Homo sapiens: one gene and its partners. The protein of the gene in region 3 interacts with the protein of the main gene of each other region in a biochemical or structural test. Each region holds a gene or a part of one and is shown on either strand. Other genes may lie near its edges.

Region 1 (2,623 bases), on a different chromosome or scaffold from region 3:
GCACCTGTAATCCCAGTACTCCAGAGGCTGAGGCAGGAGAATTGGGAGGTGGAGGTTGCAGTGAGCCGAGATCGCACTACTACACTCCAGCGTGGGCAACAGAGTGAGACTCCCTTTCAAAAAAAAAAAAAAAAGAAAAAAGTGTATACTATTTTTTCAACTCAGGTTTCTTTCAACTTTGTCACTCTATTAACTAAATTTCCCTCAGTCATTAGTAAGAGTTCAAACTTTTTCCTCCTGGAACTTATTGAAACATCCTCAAAGAGGATAGATTTTTAAAAAACTGTGAAAGTGGGCCGGGCGCAGTGGCTCACGCCTGTAATCCCAGCACTTTGGGAGGCCGAGGCAGGCAGATCATGAGGTCAGGAGATCAAGACCATCCTGGCCAACATGGTGAAACTCCATCTCTACTAAAAATACAAAAATTAGCTGGGCGTGGTGGCATATGCCTGTAATCCCAGCTACTCAGGAGGCTGAGGCAGGAGAATCGCTTGAACCAGGGAGTCAAGAGGTTGCAGTGAGCTGAAATGGCACCACAGCACTCCAGCCTGGCGACAGAGCGAGACCTGTCTCAAAAAAAAAAAAAAAAAAAAAAAAAACCTGTGAAAGCGTCATATGAGAAACTGGAGGTAACTGTGGATCATCTTGCTAGACATTCTTTGTACTCTCACTGAGACCCTTTCTGCGTGGAATACTTGCTCTTCATTGTGACTCTCAAAGGCAGACAGAACCAAGTGTTCTGATTCACCAAGAGCTTTTGTCTCCTAATGAATTACTTTGTCTCCCTTTACCACCATTTCTCAGAATCTCAGAGTACTTCATTGGCATGATCAGATGGCACTGCGATTCTTCCTATTATTAGCACTGCTGGCTAAAACATAAAAGCGGTGAAGACCAAGGCCAGAGCTTAAACTCATAGGGGTCATTCAACTCTGTTTTTATTAGTTGTCCTTGGTTTATACTGTTAACCTCAGCTAGGCATCACATTAAGTATAAGTACTTATTCACAATAAATAATGAACTAGGGCCAATTCAGCATCATGAATGAAAAACCAGTGCAGGCCGGGCGTGGTGGCTCACGCCTGTAATCCCAGCACTTTGGGAGGCCGAGGCAGGCGGATCACGAGGTCAGGAGATCAAGACCATCCTGGCTAACACGGTGAGACCCCCATCTCTACTAAAAATACAAAAAATTAGCCAGGAGTGGTGGCGGGTGCCTGTAGTCCCAGCTACTGGGTGAGGCAGGAGAATGGCGTGAACCCGGGAGGCAGAGCTTGCAGTGAGCCGAGATTGCGCCACTGCACTCCAGCCTGGGTGACAGAGTGAGACTCCGTCTCAAAAAAAAAAAAAAAAAGAAAAACCAGTGCAAAACATGTGCTGTACTAACGGCAAGTCAGAAGTGTCATCCTCAAGTACAAAGATGAGGACAGATACAGATGCCTGAAGGGAGGATATGAGCCGTGTCTTAGAGGCTCAGAGTGTGTTAACAGGAGTCTGACAGTAGAACGTTGGCCCCTCGATCTTTAGTCTGACTTTAGGTATACATTATGTATAGCATACTACAAAATGAATTTTTACTTAGTCCTAGACATATCCAGATCATTGTGGGACAAATGATCTATCCTTTGTCTCTATAAAAGAACGTAATCACTAATAATAAGCTTTTCTACCTACAGAGTCTCTCTGAGAAATCAAGGAAAGTATTCCGAATATTTCGGCAGTGGGAATCTCTGTGCTCATGCTGAAGATACTCCAGCGCCTTCCTGGAGATAGCTGGAATGAGAGTGACTTTTTGAAAAATTAAGGCTGAGTTCCTTTCGGTCAGCTGACACTAAGTTTTTCCTGTTCTGGGTTAATCATAAGGAGCCCCCTGCCATAGCAAAGGCAGTGAGTGTCAACTATCTGCATCTGGCTGAGAGAGACCCGTTTCCTTTCAGGGATGTGGACAGGGTAAGGGCAGCAAGCATGGTTCTGTTAAAGGAGTGTGGGATTAACAGACTAGAAGGAAGACTAAGGACCTGACCACCCATTTCAGCATCTTCAATGTGGAGCAGTGTTCTGAGGACTCTTCTATCCTAGGACTATGACAGTGTGTATTAATAAAATATTTGCTAAGATTCTCATTGTTGGAGAACTGTTTTCCCCCTTGCCCTGTGGGCCGGAGAAACTTCAGTGGAACATTCAACTTTTGATTTTCAGATTGGCTGCAAAGCCTAAAATTTGTGATTCCAGTCAAGGAGGTATAATCTTTCCTAAACCAAAAGCAAGATGATTTTCATTATGCCACCAGGAAATTTCCTGGTGTGTTATAGTGAATGGTCAACTGATAATTTTCTCCTTGCTTTGATAATAACAGAATAAAACAATGTAATGGGGAGGAAGGCACTTCAGAAGAGACCCCTCTCCATGTGCCATTGAATGCATGAGTCCCCCAGTTGGGCTTCCCCAAGACTCGTTGCTTTTGGGGGATCATCAGTTTTTGTGGTAGAGAAGGTGGACCCTGAACTGCCCACTGATAAAGTAACCATGACCTAGCAAAGGCTAGAAAGTGATTATTCTCTGATATGCCATGTTTTTCGTCACTGAGATTGTTTTGTTTTATACTTTTGTACTGAAGTATTTT
Region 2 (7,040 bases), on a different chromosome or scaffold from region 3:
CACCACTGAACTCCAGCCTGAGTGATGGAGCCAGACCCTGTCTCAAAAATAAAAAATTTTTGGCCGGGCGTGGTGGCTCACACTTGTAATCCCAGCACTTTGGGAAGCCAAAGCAGGTGGATCACTTAAGGCCAGGAGTTTGAGACCAGCCTGGCGAATGTGGTGAAACCCCATCTCTACTAAAAATACAAAAGATTAGCCAGGTGTGGTGGCACATGCCTGTAATCCCAGCTATTTGGGAGGCTGAGGCAGGAGAATAGCTTGAACTCGGCAGTGAGCCGAGATCGTGCCACCGCGCTCCAGCCTGGGCAACAAGAGCGAAACTCTGTCTCAGAAAAAAATAATAATAATAAATAAATATATTTTTAAAAGATGTAGCATATGAAAGTCTGTCCCTCCCTGTTCAAAAAATTTATATTGCCCCCTCCCTCCCTACCCCCACCTGGTTGGGGAACATAGTCTGAATTCCCTAGCATGCCACTTAAGATTATCCACAACATGACTCCAACCTACCTTTCCAGCCACATATTTGACCAGGGCCAAATACGTCCCTACCTAAGCCCACTCACAGTCTGTGCACACCTGTCCTTGCCTAAACCACACCCGGTGTCTTCATGGCTTACTCAATGCACTCCTTCTGAACAGAAGGTCTCCCTCACCACGGGAAAGCCTTATTCATCCCTTAAAGCCCACCTTAAATACTGTGTCTACTACAAGCCGTTCTTGGTAGTTCTTGGCCACTTTATTCACTTCCTGTGTATCCTTAAAAAGTGGCTCATACTTCTATTACTTATTAAGGGCTGGTTTACATTACAGTTAACACAAGTTAGTAGCATCCGTCCATCTCCCCAACTGGACCATGAGTCCCCTACAGACATTTATTTTCATATCCCTAGTGCCTGACATAGTATTCTGCACACAGTCTTTTTATTTAGTTAATGGAATCACTGATACATTTTGTACTTACCTGTGAAATGCTTTATGAATTTGTCTTTTAAGTTAGAGTCTCTTGGGAATATTTCTGAAAAGAAAAAAAAAACCATCAGAATTTATTGAATGCATTTCTCCCATTTAAAAATATCCTTAATATGCTAATTACTTAATAAGGCACTAAACACATGGATTTGTGACAGTTTATTTAGCTGATCCCAAACTGGTTTCTCCAGCCCTGACCATTTCCTGGGCTCCAAAACTGCAGTACAACTCACTGCTTGCTCTACGGCATGAAGGGTACCTTACAGATCTCTCAAAAGTGCACAGCCGCAATGGAAGGTCTCCTTTTCCTCTGCCCAGACCTGTTTCTCCCGTGTTCCTCAGTCCACTGAAGACTGACTGAAGTGGCATCACTCTTGATCAGGCCCCAGCTCAAGAAGTTATGCTTGACTTCCTTTTTCCCTCACCCCTACACCCAAACCATGAGTTAGTTTTATGTATTTCACCTTCAACAAATTATTCCAGACCCACTCACTTCTTTCTCCTTCCCTCAACGAGTCTGGCCCAAGCCATCGTCCTTTTGTGACCATGCCTTGGCAGTGGCCTCCTAACCCCTCTTCTCCTCCCCATAATCTTCTTTCTCCCCAGTAGCCAGAACAAACAAACAGAAATATACTATAAGTCATGATCTCTCCCACTTGGAAGGTTTTGCACTTAATACATAATAAAATTTAAAAATAAAATTGTATCTCAGGCTTTACCTTCTACTCACTAAAACTACACCATCCAGAAAATGCAATTTATACAAACAATCGGGAGCATGTGCAACTCTTTCAAAGGAAGAGAAAACTTAAACTTTAGTAAAATAGTTGAGCCTCAAGGTTTGTTGGTAGGTATACATTTAAACTTACAACATTTTAAGAATATAATGGGGAAGTGAAGGTTTGTCATCCCCCTCTAGGAGAGTCTGAGCCATCACGGTGATGAGTGTGACTTCGCCAGCACAAGGCAGTGGTGACTGAGGCTTGGTAAATGCAGATGCAGGGATTCTAACTGTTCCTTACATGCCATGAGCTCCTGAGGGACGTGGGAACACTTCCCTGTGCAGGGAGCTCCCCAGTTCAGGGCAGCCTTATGTGAGTTCAGGGCCTGGTTCAGGGCGTGATTGTGTGGGTGCGCAGGAATGCAGAGAGATCGGAGCTCCCCCACCATTTGACAATGAACACCTGCACTTTACAAACAATTAAAACTAATCCTGAAAAACAAAGCAGCAGTAAAATGAAAGTACTTCATATAAACCTTTCCTCTTCTCTTCAATAATGCTCCAGCCCGAACATAGGTCTTTTCCCCTGTACTTCTCAGAAACCAAAAACAACAAATTGGCTTCTGTGGTGTCAATATTTGGGCCAGGTAGTTACACTGGTGCTTTCTGAAAAATGAATGAGCTGAGTACAGCAGAAGCACCTACTGTGGTTAAGGCATGCTCAAAGACTTTATAAATAATTCTATTTCCAAAAGCATTTTAGAGTATAATTTTAATCTCTAGACCCTGTGACAATGATGACACTCAGGTGTGTAGAAAATTACATATTTTAAGTAAATTACCCTCCTCATCTCCACCCCATAGCACATTTTATAACTTCTATCAAAGCAGATGTCACATTCTGGTTAGCATGATGGGGCACCGTGTGTGTCTGTCTTCCCCACAATTATGGCTTCCTGAGGAAAGGGATGCGGTCTTGTCCCCCTGTACAACCCGGCTTTGCTGGCAGAGGCACCTGGCACATGTTCAAGGAATAGGAAGCCAAGAGGGTTGCTACCGCTCAAATGGAAACATCAGTGCCTCCTTGTACTCAGTACAGCCCACCAAGAAAACCAGAATTTCAATACACTTGAATTTTAACTTCAAAACACAAACATCACATAGGAATACAAGAATGTACAACAGATTGATTTAGCTGAAACAGAAAAGTGGTGTTTAAGTTGACACCCGAAGTAACAAGCCAGAGATAAGAAGGTAAGAAGAGATGGGAATGGGGAAGACTGCAGCGTGTTCAAGTATTGGGGGAAATGTCCAGAGCTGCTGAAGAAGAGGTGGGTGAGACAAGGCTGCAGGTGCAGGTAGGCTTTAGAGTTAAGTCGTACACAAACTTTGTGCTTAATTCTGTGGGTGATGAGAAGTCAAAAGGCTTTAGGCAAAGGAATGGTACGGTTAAGCTATTTTCAAAAGACCGTTGAGGGAGGGAGGGAATGGGGAGAATTGGCCAAAGGATACAAAGCTGCAGATGGGTAGGATGAGCAAGTCTAGAGGTCTAATGCATGGCAGAAGGACTGCAGGGAATAATGATGTGTTGTATATGGGATAATGACTAAGAGAGCAGAGTTCAGGAGTTCTCACCACCAAAAAAAAAGGGCAACTGTGAGATGATGGATATGATTTGCTTGACCACAGTAACCACTGCACTCTGTATACATATATCAAAAATTATGCTGCATACTCTAAAGACATACAATAAAAATAAACAAAATTATATACACCATTCAAACATTTTTTAATAAATAAATTTTGTTTTTTTGAGACAGGGTCTTGCTCTGTTGCCCAGGCTGGGGTGCAATGGTGTGATCACAGCTCACTGAAGCCTCCACCACCTGGGCTCAAGCGATCCTCCCACCTCAGCCTCCCAAAGTGTTGGAATTAGAGGCACGAGCCACCAAACCCAGCATAAACTATTTTTAATAATAAAAAACAATTATGCCTAAGTATTGTGAAAGGAAAATAAATCTCAGGACCCCAAAATCACTAAGCCAAGGGAAAAGTCAAGCTGGGAACTATGTTAGGCAAACCTGCCTCCCATTAATTCCTAAATAAGATAGTTACAAAGATAAAAAGCTACATACATCCCTCACGATTTGCCCACAAGAAAATTCTTTGTGGATGGAGGACAGACAGAACTCAAAGTCATCCCTCTGAGGCTCACCTGACACAAATGCATATGATTGCTTCCTCTGCCCTATTGTTTATGTAAAAATGCAGATTCACTGAGCCACACTAAATTGTGTACTCAGTGGAAGGCTGATCAAAGACTCAAAAGAATGCAAACTTTTGTCTCTTATCTACTTTTGACCTGGAACCCCCCCCACACCCACCTCCCTCCCTGCACACACCCCTTTCCCCTCAAACCCGTTTCCCCTCCCCCATCCCCCTTCAACTTGTCTTACCTTACTGAACCCAACCAATGTACATCTTACACATATTGATTGATGTCTCATGTCTCCCTAAAATGTATAAAAGCCAGCTATACCCCAATCACCTTAAGCACATGTCAGCAGGACCACCTGAGGCTGTGTCATGGGTGCATCCTTAACCTTGACAAAATAAACTTTCTAAATTGATTGAGACCTGTCTCAGATACTTTTTGGTTTACAGTACAGAGGGCAAATAATAGATGCAGACAGATAAGTTAAAAGGTTTACAGTCATGTGCTGTTTAATGATGGAAATATGTTCTGAGAAATGCATCGTTAGGAGATTCCTCCATTGTGGGAGCATCATAGAGTGCATTTACATAAACCTTGGTGGTAGAGTCTCCTGCACACTCAGCTATATGGTATAGCCTATTGCTCCTAGGCTACAAAACCTGTTGTGCTGAATACTGTAGGTAGCTGTAACACCATGGTGAGTATTTGTGAATCTAAACATATCTATACATAGAAAAGGAATAGTAAAAATACAGTATTATAATCTTATAGGACCACCATGGTATATGCAGTCTGTAGATGACAGAAACGTCCTTTTGTGGCACGTGACTGTAACTGTATTGACTAGCACTGGCCTATGCAGGGGCTAGCAAACAACAGCTCCTGAGGCAGATCCAGCTTGCTCCTGTGTTTGTGAATAAAGCTCTGCTGCAACATGCCCACATCCATTTGTTTAGGGGTCGCCAGTGGCTGCTTTTTCACTACAAGGGCAGAACTGAGTAGTTGTTGCACAGATACTATGGCTCACTGTAGAAAGCAGAAAAGTTCCTCATTAAAGTTCGTCTTGCTTTAAAAATAAAATAATAGACGCTAGGAATAATAGCTCCTTACTCCAAAGCCTCCTATCAACTATTAGTTCTCATACTTTAGCCCAGTTAGTTGCTTTGGCTTACTCAGGCATGTCTGGACAGGCCCAGGCAAGTCTTAGCTCATAGCTTATGCCCCTTCCTTATTTGGAAATGTTATTGCTTCCTTAAACCTTTCATAAGCAACTTCCTTTTCTTCTTGGTTCTCCCTTGCACTTACCTATTTAGGGAAATTTTAGGTTATTAGCAAATCGGGTATCAGTTTAAGACTGTGAGGTCCAGCTCCAGCCAATGGATGCAGGACACAGCAGTAAGGACAAACCAAATGCGTAAGGGATAAATATGTCTGCTTTTCCTTTGTTCAGGTGTATTGTTGCCATTGTTCCATCTGTGAGGGGCACCCTTTCTGCAGAAAGTAAAGATTGCCTTGCTGAGAGATCCTTTGTCTCTGTGCTGACTTTTCTTTGCACACTGATTATCTGCCCAAAATATTGACTATGTGGCCCTTTCTAAAGAAAGTTTGCCAATGCCTGCCCTGCAGCACACTCCTATTTGCAGTAAAAACAAATTAAAATGGTGGGAGGCGCCAGGGAGCAGAATTCTGGGGTGGAGAGAAGAGATATTTTTCCATGCACACCCTTTTTATTACTTTTAACTTTTTTGAATATAAATCTGTATTAATTTTTCAATAAAAAACTGATTGAAAATGAATTTGCATTTAGTGACTAGATGCACGCAGTAGTTTTTGATCCACAAAATATTAAATAAACAACTGAATATAAGAAAATTACCCCAGGCCGGGCATGGTGGCTCACGCCCATAATTCCAACACTTTGGGAGGCTGAGGCAGGTGGATCACCTGAGGTCAGGAGTTCGAGACCAGCCTGACCAACATGGCGAAACCCCATCTCCATTAAAAATACAAAAAAATTAGCCTAGCGTGGTAGCGTGTGCCAGAAATCCCAGCTACTCGGAAGGCTGAGGGAGGAGAATCAATTGAACCTGTGAGGTGGAGGTTGTAGTGAGCCAAGATCGCACCACTGCACTCCAGCCTGGGTGACAGAGCAAGATTCCATCTCAAAATAAATAAATAAATAAATATAAATAACTAAGTAAAAAGAAAACTCCCCGCAAACAATGAAACTAGTTGATTTCTCTCTGATGGAAAATGTTCTAAGAGAGCAGCATCTACAATGAGATAAATGGGAGCCACACATGTAATTCTAAATGTTTAGTAGCCACATTCAAAAAGTAAAAAGAAATGTGTGAATTAATTTAATAATTTGGCCAGTCACAGCGGCTCACGCCTGTCATCCCAGCACTTTGGGAGGATGAGGCTGGAGGATCGCTTGGGCCCAGGAGTTTGAGACCAGCCCAGGCAACATAGTGAGACCTCATTTCTAAAATTAAAATTAAAATTAATTTATTTTAACTAAGTATAGCCAAAGTGTTACCATTTCAACTTGTTTTCAACAATATTAATTACTAATGAGATACTTTACTTTTTTGCACTAAGTTTTCAAAATTCAGGGTGTATTTTGCACATTCAGCACATCTCAGTTTGAACCAGCCACATGTCAAGTGCTCAGTAGCCTCATGGCTTGTGGATGTGGTGTTGGACGGCATAAGTCTGAAATGTAACTTTACGCCGGGTGCAGTGGCTTATGCCTGTAATCTCGGCACTTTGGGAGGCCGAGGCCGGTGGATCGCCTGAGGTCAGGAGTTCAAGACCAGCCTGGTCAACATGGTGAAACTCTGTGTCTACTAAAAATACAAAAACATTAGCCGGGCATGGTGGCACACACCTGTAATCCCAGCTACTCAGGAGGCTGAGGCAGGGGAATCACGTGAACCTAGGAGGCAGAGGTTACAGTGAGCTGAGATCGTGCACTCCAGCCTGGGCGACAAGAGCGAGACTCCGTCTCAAAAGAAAAAAAAAAAAGAAGAAGAAATAAAATAAAATGTAAGCTTCAAATGACAACTAGATATGAGGAAGAAGTGCTAGTGTTCTATAGCACTGTAAGATGACTACAGTAAACAATAA
Region 3 (7,040 bases):
ATGGGCTATTGTAACAAGGGTTCAGAGCCCGCAAACCACCTCAGACCACTGAGAGGTCACCAGGTCACCCCAAAACAGCAAACCCTCAGTCAGGTTGAATTTACCAGAGCTTAGGGGCTCCAGGGGGAAGCACAGCTCGGTTTCTCAATGTCTGAATGTCTCCCCTGGTCAGATGAAGGATGGAGTGCCGGTGCCCCTGATCATTGCAGCCGGAGGTGGTGGCAGGGCCTACGGGGCCAAGACAGACACGTTCCACCCAGAGAGACTGGAGAATAACTCCTCGGTTCTAGGGCTAAACGGCAATTCCGGAGCCGCAGGTAAAGCGCTGCAAGCGTGCCCTCTCCCAGAACCTCTCCCAGGCCTTCAGCTGGGCCCCGATGCCATCGCATGCCTGAGGGCATCTTAGTCACTGGCACCTGGGATGCTAGGAGCTCTGAATATTGGTACCGATATCCAGGGAGGGAGGGCAGGCAGCACCCTGGGAGCCCTGCAGGCCATCTTGCTGACCTGGAGCTTGGACTTGTAGAAGGTCACTGAGAAAGTGAGGCAGGGAGCAGCCGTCAATCAGCCAGCTGGCCCTCCCTGCAATTGTTAGAGCCTCCCCCTGAGATTCCTTCTTCCTCCAGGGGCAGATGGGCCCCCCAGTTAGGATATGAGCAGGTGAAAAAAATCTGGGCAATGTCAGGCCTCCTAGACCCCCATGGTACAGACCTCCAGGCCCTGGGCTGCCAGACCCAAGCGTATCCCCGCTGGAAAATCTCTTACTTGACTCTCCACGGCTGAGCTCTCCTCCCTCATTAATGGGAGCCAGAAGCACAGAAATGTGAGACAGGCAGGGAAGAGAGTGTCAATTCCCTGATTCCTCTAAAGTCAGCCACCCCTAAAGACAGAAAATGCAATTCCTTTTTGTATTTTCTTTTCCACACAATCAGACTGTGGGAGGATCTTAGAAGGCATTTAAGATTTGGGATTAATTAAAACAAATGTGCAAACTGTCTCTCAATTGAGAGACGGCTAGAATAGAAGAGTAGAAACAGTCATGGGTCCACCCTGAGGATCTCCAGTGACGTTTGCAGCACCGAGGCCCAGCACCCGAGAAACCCTGAAGCACCTCTGCCTCTGTTGCACATGTGCTGTCAAAACAACCTGCAGGTTTCCAGGCAGATACCATTCCTGTTTTACAGGAGAGCCAATGGGCTCACCAAGGCATGATGACTTTTTTTTTCTCAACAGGGCCGAGCTGTTTAGTGATAGAGACAATTTTTGTTTTTTGTTTTTTGTTTTTGAGACGGAGTCTCGCTCTGTCACCAGGCTGGAGTGCAGTGGCACGGTCTCGGCTCATGCCACCTCTGACTTGCAGGTTCAAGCGATTCTCCTGCCTCAGCCTCCCGAGTAGCTGGGATTACAGGCACACGCCACCACGCCCAGCTAATTTTTGTATTTTTAGTAGAGACGTGGTTTCTCCATGTTGGTCAGGCTGGTCTCAATCTCCTGACCTCAGGTGACCCACCTGCCTCGGCCTCCCAAAGTGCTGGGATTACAGGCGTGAGCCACCACGCCTGGCCAGACTCAATTCGTATTTTTAAAACACCGTTGTTCTGATTTTGATATGGGTTATTTTCCTTTCCACACATTTGCTCGAAGGCTGCAGAACGGGTATGGGGGTCAGAAACCTCCTCAGCTGGGGGCTGAGCAGGATGAAAGCACAGCGCATGGTCTCCGTCCATCTCGTTCTGATTTATTTATTACGCGCTTACTCACAGCCGTGCACAAACACCAGCGCCAACTTCTGGCCCCTAACGCGCCTAAGGGGCCTTCTCTCTGCCACATGACAACAGCCTTGACAGGCCCACACCCTCCCCTGAGAGCAGAAGGGAGGACAGCGAAACAAACCCAAGCTCAACACCCACCCCTGGAGGTTTCATGGCTAACAAAGTCCCCCCAGCTTGCCTGATGGCCTCGCCTCAGCTCTGCTTGTCCCCATTCTAGATTCAAGCTTGTTCCTGACCTCAGCTTCATTTTCAAAACCTGGCTTCCTCTTTCTAGCAAGACAGTCATCCCACCTACAGGTCCCTCTGGGTCCCAAAGAATCTGGGCCACAAGTGCTTCCAGAAACCCTGCCAGGCCGGTTCACCCGTAGGGTTCCGGCAGACACACACACTGCTGTTTCTGCCTTCCACCATCAATTTCCAGGTCCCCAGCATGCATCATCTGCTGCAGCAGAAAGGGTTTTAGGGTTTTTAGAATACCTCCACCCTTTCCTATCCATCAGTTCTGCGTTCGTGGGATTCAACCAACCACAGATCAAAAATACTCAAAAAAAAAAAAAAAGATGATTGTGTCTTTACTGAACATGTACAGACTTATTCCCTAAATAATACAATAACTATTACATAGGATTTACCCTGTATTGGGTATTATATGTAATCTAGAGATGATTTTTTTATAGGAGAATGTGCAAATACTATGCCACTTTATATAAAGGGACATTTATTTTGGTGTGATGGAGGGATCCTGGAACCTCCACAGATACTGAGGGACAACTGTAGATGTCTATTCAAATGTCCTATGGAACAGTAGGCATAGGGGATATCCTGGAATCTCAAAGGTTAGCAGAAGAGATTTCTTGTGGTCAACCTGTGGCTACATTCAACCTCGGCTCTGTAGATAGCTTCCTTTGTAAGAGCCCAAAGCAGCCCCAGGCATTGGGAAGCACAGCCCTGAGGCTGCCTTTGTTGCCAGGGTATCGTCCACCCACCAGGGCTTCTGCTCCTGACCTTGGAGCAGTTCCTGAGCGCCTGGCCCTGGAGAACCTCTAAGCAGGCTGAGCCCAGGTGTGAGGCTGTCTGCACGCGTGTGTTCTGCCTCTCGAGCCCCTGACGCTCCCCACCCCTGGCAGTTTGTGGAGCATTTCGTACACTCACTGTCTCCTTTGAGCGGAACATCAACCCCATCAGGTGGGTCTTATTATCCCCAAGCCACAGGTGAGGAAACACAGGCTCAGAATGGGGCGTTCTTCCCCAGGGTTTCACAGACAGCAACGGGCTCTCTGGTCAGCCTAGTCCAGGATTCCTGCAAGGAACTTTAGTGCAAGGTTTTGACATGTGGCTGCTCAAAGACTGGTGAGTCCCTTTTCTCGTTAGGACGGGAGGCAGTTAATGAAACGAAGGTCCAGTGCTACGGGGCTTGGCTGACATGAAGAGAAGATAGAGGAACGAGTTTAGTCGCCATGCTGCCTGTCTGCCCACGTCCCCCCATCCTTAACCAAGCACAGCCCCTGCTTTTGAGCCAGAGAGTACTGGCAGGAAGCAGGGGTACAAGGCACGCTCTCATCTGGGTGTACTCAGCTGTGGCCAAACAGGTCTCCTAGGGCAAGCAGCCTCCTGGTTTTCCTAGTGTGGATCTGAAGCCCCCAGGCCCCACTGAAGATGGGCCCCGGGAGCTGGAGCTGGTGCGGGCGCCCTCCAAGGCGTCCTGCATCCTGCTTCTCTGGCCAGCATGGCTAATTGAACCTTGCCAGCATCCTCACGCAGGTTCCCTATCTCTTCCCGCAGGTGGTGGAGGTGGCTGGAATGATAACACTTCCTTGCTCTGGGCCGGAAAATCTTTGCAGGAGGGTGCCACCGGAGGACATTCCTGCCCCCAGGCCATGAAGAAGTGGGGGTGGGAGACAAGAGGGGGTTTCGGAGGGGGTGGAGGGGGGTGCTCCTCAGGTGGAGGAGGCGGAGGATATATAGGTAAAGATGATTCGTGTTCAAGGTGTCACTCCCTCCCTGCTTAGTCCTAGGCTCCTCACCTCCCTGCCCTGCCCTCCCCTGCCCTCCCCTGGCCTGCCCAAGTGTGGACTGTGATGTGACTGCACGCCTCCCTCTCGACCTGCCTGGACCAGCCAGAGGCAGGGTGCTGGCTTTCGAGCCAGCACCCTGCCTCCAGGCTTCCTCAGCGACAGCATCAAGATCCCATGTGATTCTTGATGTCCCCCAAAGTCGATGATAAAGAGGCTTTGGCTTGCCAGACTAGTCTCTGAGTCACCCATAAGGACTCCCCCAGCCTCCCTTGGATGGCCTGGCCAAGCCAGCTCCTGAAGGGGCTGGTTTGTGGTTTCATGGACTCCTTACTCCTGCTCCCTACCTCAGCCCACCAGCTTCCTGAAAGGCGCCGCTGTGCCTGCTGATGGGAGCTATTCCCGAGGGCAACTGCAGGCAGGCTTAGCCCAGCCCTTCAGCAAGCAGCTGCCCATTGACCCCAGCTGCCTCGTCTGGGCTTCAGAGCACAGTCAGCAGAGCCTTCTGAAGCTGAGAGGCTGGGAGACGATGGCTCCCCGCTCCCCACAGATTAGGACGAATGCATGCATGCTCTGTGGTGTTCGTGTCTGTGTTTTGCATTGACGCTGTGTGTAAGATGCTTGTGTTAACCACATGCTCTTCTTTTCCAAGCTGGGTGGGTGGGAGGAGCCCGAGGGGGGAGCCCAAAGATAGCCCAGCCCCAGATGAAAGGAGGGACGGGAGCCTCAGGGCACAGGGGCTCATTTCCCGCAATCCGCACAGCCCGCCACACCCCAACCCTGACCCAATGGGGCTGAAGAGCAACTCTTCAGTGCTACCATCCTGACCAGTCCTGGGAGAGGCACCATGGGCATATCCCAGCCTGGAAAGACTAGAACTTTTTGGACTCTTGCTCACATTAACCACTTCTTAGTGGGCCACCGGCAGAGTGGGAGCTGGCCTGGACCTGAGGGGAAATTAGCCACACACCCAGCATCTACTGAGCCAAATCCCACATGCAGCCTCTGTGCCCTGAGCCTCCCTTCCCTCCCCGCATCCCTGCCCCTGAGGTCCCCAGTGACCCCCTAACTTTGGCCAGAGCTGCATGCCCCACTGACGTGTGTGTGTGTTAAGATTTTGGCACCCACCCCCCATGTTAAACTCTGCTCTGGTTTGCTACTCAGGCGGCAATGCAGCCTCAAACAATGACCCCGAAATGGATGGGGAAGATGGGGTTTCCTTCATCAGTCCACTGGGCATCCTGTACACCCCAGCTTTAAAAGGTAGCTTCTCTGCCAGGCAGCAGAACAAACTTGCTTAGGTCAGTCCTCCCACCAAGCTAAAACCTCAGAGTCTCTGACCTGTATCCAGGATACAGAGGCACAATTATGGGTCCCTGGCAGGCAAGCTTCCTATGGCGCAGGTCACCACATTTTCCAGAAGTCAGGATGTGTGCTTTAATATGAATGCAGAGGCAGAATCCTAGGAAATGTAACAGTAATAGCCCAATACCTGCACCAGCCAACCTAAAGATCATGTGCGTGGGCTTCTCTCCACCACTGACTCAAAAGCAAACATCCATAGACACCCATGCCCGCTGCCTCCGCTGCACTCTCTATATGCACAGGAAGACTCTTCTACACAGTTGTGCTTCCAGTGGCTATGGGACCTAGGAACAGGGACCACCAGAGCACCCACAGTGACCACCTGGAGACATAGTACTGAGGCTGGGAGTGGGGAGGCAGGCTCGGCCCAAGACTGACCCTCCCTCCTTGTCACTAGTGATGGAAGGCCACGGGGAAGTGAATATTAAGCATTATCTAAACTGCAGTCACTGTGAGGTAGACGAATGTCACATGGACCCTGAAAGCCACAAGGTCATCTGCTTCTGTGACCACGGGACGGTGCTGGCTGAGGATGGCGTCTCCTGCATTGGTAAGGGGGCAGGGCCAGGGGAGGCAGAGGGGCCCATAGCCTGAGATTTGGCCCATGACCACAAATGGTTTCTGGGTTCCAGAACACCCTGGATTCGGTTTTGTAAACTTTCTGTCCCTCCCCTACCTGCCACAGCTCGAGTGCTCTGACCACTGTGTGAAAGGTGGGTCATGGCTCCTGAAGGAGTCTTAAAAATCCTCTACTATAGAATAAGCCCTCTACCACCCCCACCAAGGGGCCATCCTGCCTCCACTTAAACATGCCCAGTGACAGGGATCTTACTGCTCCTAAGGTTCTCTGTTCCCTTGGGCAGTTTCAGAGCTGGGGACCTGTTGCCTTAACCTTCCTCTCCTAGGTTTCCTTACAGCAGCAGCTGTGCATGTGCAGTGTTTGAAGACAGTGCTCCCATTCTCCTCCTCTTTTTTTTTTTTTTTTTTTTTTTTGAGGCGGAGTTTCACTGTTGTTGCCCAGGCTGGAATGCAATGGTGTGGTCTCGGCTCACTGCAACCTCCGCTTCCCAGGTTCAAACAATTCTTCTGCCTCAGCCTCCTGAGTAGCTGGGACTACAGGCGCCCACCACCATGCCAGGCTAATTTTCATATTTTCAGTAGAGACAGGGTTTCACCTTTTGGCCAGGCTGGTCTCAAACTCCTGACCTCAGGTGATTCACCCGCCTCGGCCTCCCAAAGTGCTGGGATTACAGGTGTGAGCCACCGCACCTGGCCCCATCCTCCTCCTTTAACTCTTCTTCAGACTAAATAACCCATTTGTTTGCAGCAGTTCATACAAGATGCAGTTTTGTGTCTCTTCCCCCGCCCCACCAGTGTCCCTCTTCTGCATGTGTTCCACTATCGATGTCCCTTTTGAAATGTAGTGTCCAGTACCAAGCACGATACCTCCGTGTGGTCTGGCCAGCAGAGGGCACAGGACCCCTCCCCACTGTGAGCCCAGTGCCTCAGGGCCACAAGGAAGTAACTTAGCCTCAGAGGGTGTTACTTACAGCGCACCCTGTTGTTTGGTCACCTGCGGCCCCCACATCTCTTCCAGATCCACTTTCGTTTCACCTTCCATCCTCACCCCATAGTTGTGCAGCTCATGTTTCAAACCAACATCCCGCCACTGATATTCATCCCTGTTAAATTTCCCTTCACCCAAAAGCTACTGCTAAAAGCCTGTCAAATCGGGATGAGTCTGGTCCTGCTCATGGTCCCCTGAAAAGAAAAGTGTGACAAGGTCTCCAGCGATGGGAAGGAGCAAGTAGTTTTTGTCTCAGTGGGGGAGGTTATTTCTGACTTGGGACCAACTCAAAGGAGACCTGGTGTGGTTGTCAATACCCCAGTG

Evidence for each region. Proteins that work in one complex are often made in the same cells at the same time.
Region 1: the proteins of ALK (region 3) and ZC3HC1 form a complex in vitro, tested with the Homo sapiens proteins (one study listed by BioGRID).
Region 2: the proteins of ALK (region 3) and ALKAL1 form a complex in vitro, tested with the Homo sapiens proteins (one study listed by IntAct).

The regions. Positions count from the first base shown.
Region 1 is NC_000007.14:130,017,786-130,020,408, reverse strand, and holds the end of ZC3HC1 (zinc finger C3HC-type protein 1), read left to right. Parts: intron 1-1,676; coding exon 1,677-1,745; 3' UTR 1,746-2,117; downstream 2,118-2,623. UniProt on the Homo sapiens protein: Required for proper positioning of a substantial amount of TPR at the nuclear basket (NB) through interaction with TPR.
Region 2 is NC_000008.11:52,541,425-52,548,464, forward strand, and holds part of ALKAL1 (ALK and LTK ligand 1 precursor), read right to left. Parts: intron 1,022-7,040; coding exon 968-1,021; intron 1-967. UniProt on the Homo sapiens protein: Cytokine that acts as a physiological ligand for receptor tyrosine kinase LTK, leading to its activation. Monomeric ALKAL1 binds to LTK, leading to LTK homodimerization and activation.
Region 3 is NC_000002.12:29,225,581-29,232,620, reverse strand, and holds part of ALK (ALK tyrosine kinase receptor isoform 1 precursor), read left to right. Parts: intron 1-172; coding exon 173-317; intron 318-3,554; coding exon 3,555-3,737; intron 3,738-4,948; coding exon 4,949-5,047; intron 5,048-5,546; coding exon 5,547-5,699; intron 5,700-7,040. UniProt on the Homo sapiens protein: Neuronal receptor tyrosine kinase that is essentially and transiently expressed in specific regions of the central and peripheral nervous systems and plays an important role in the genesis and differentiation of the nervous system.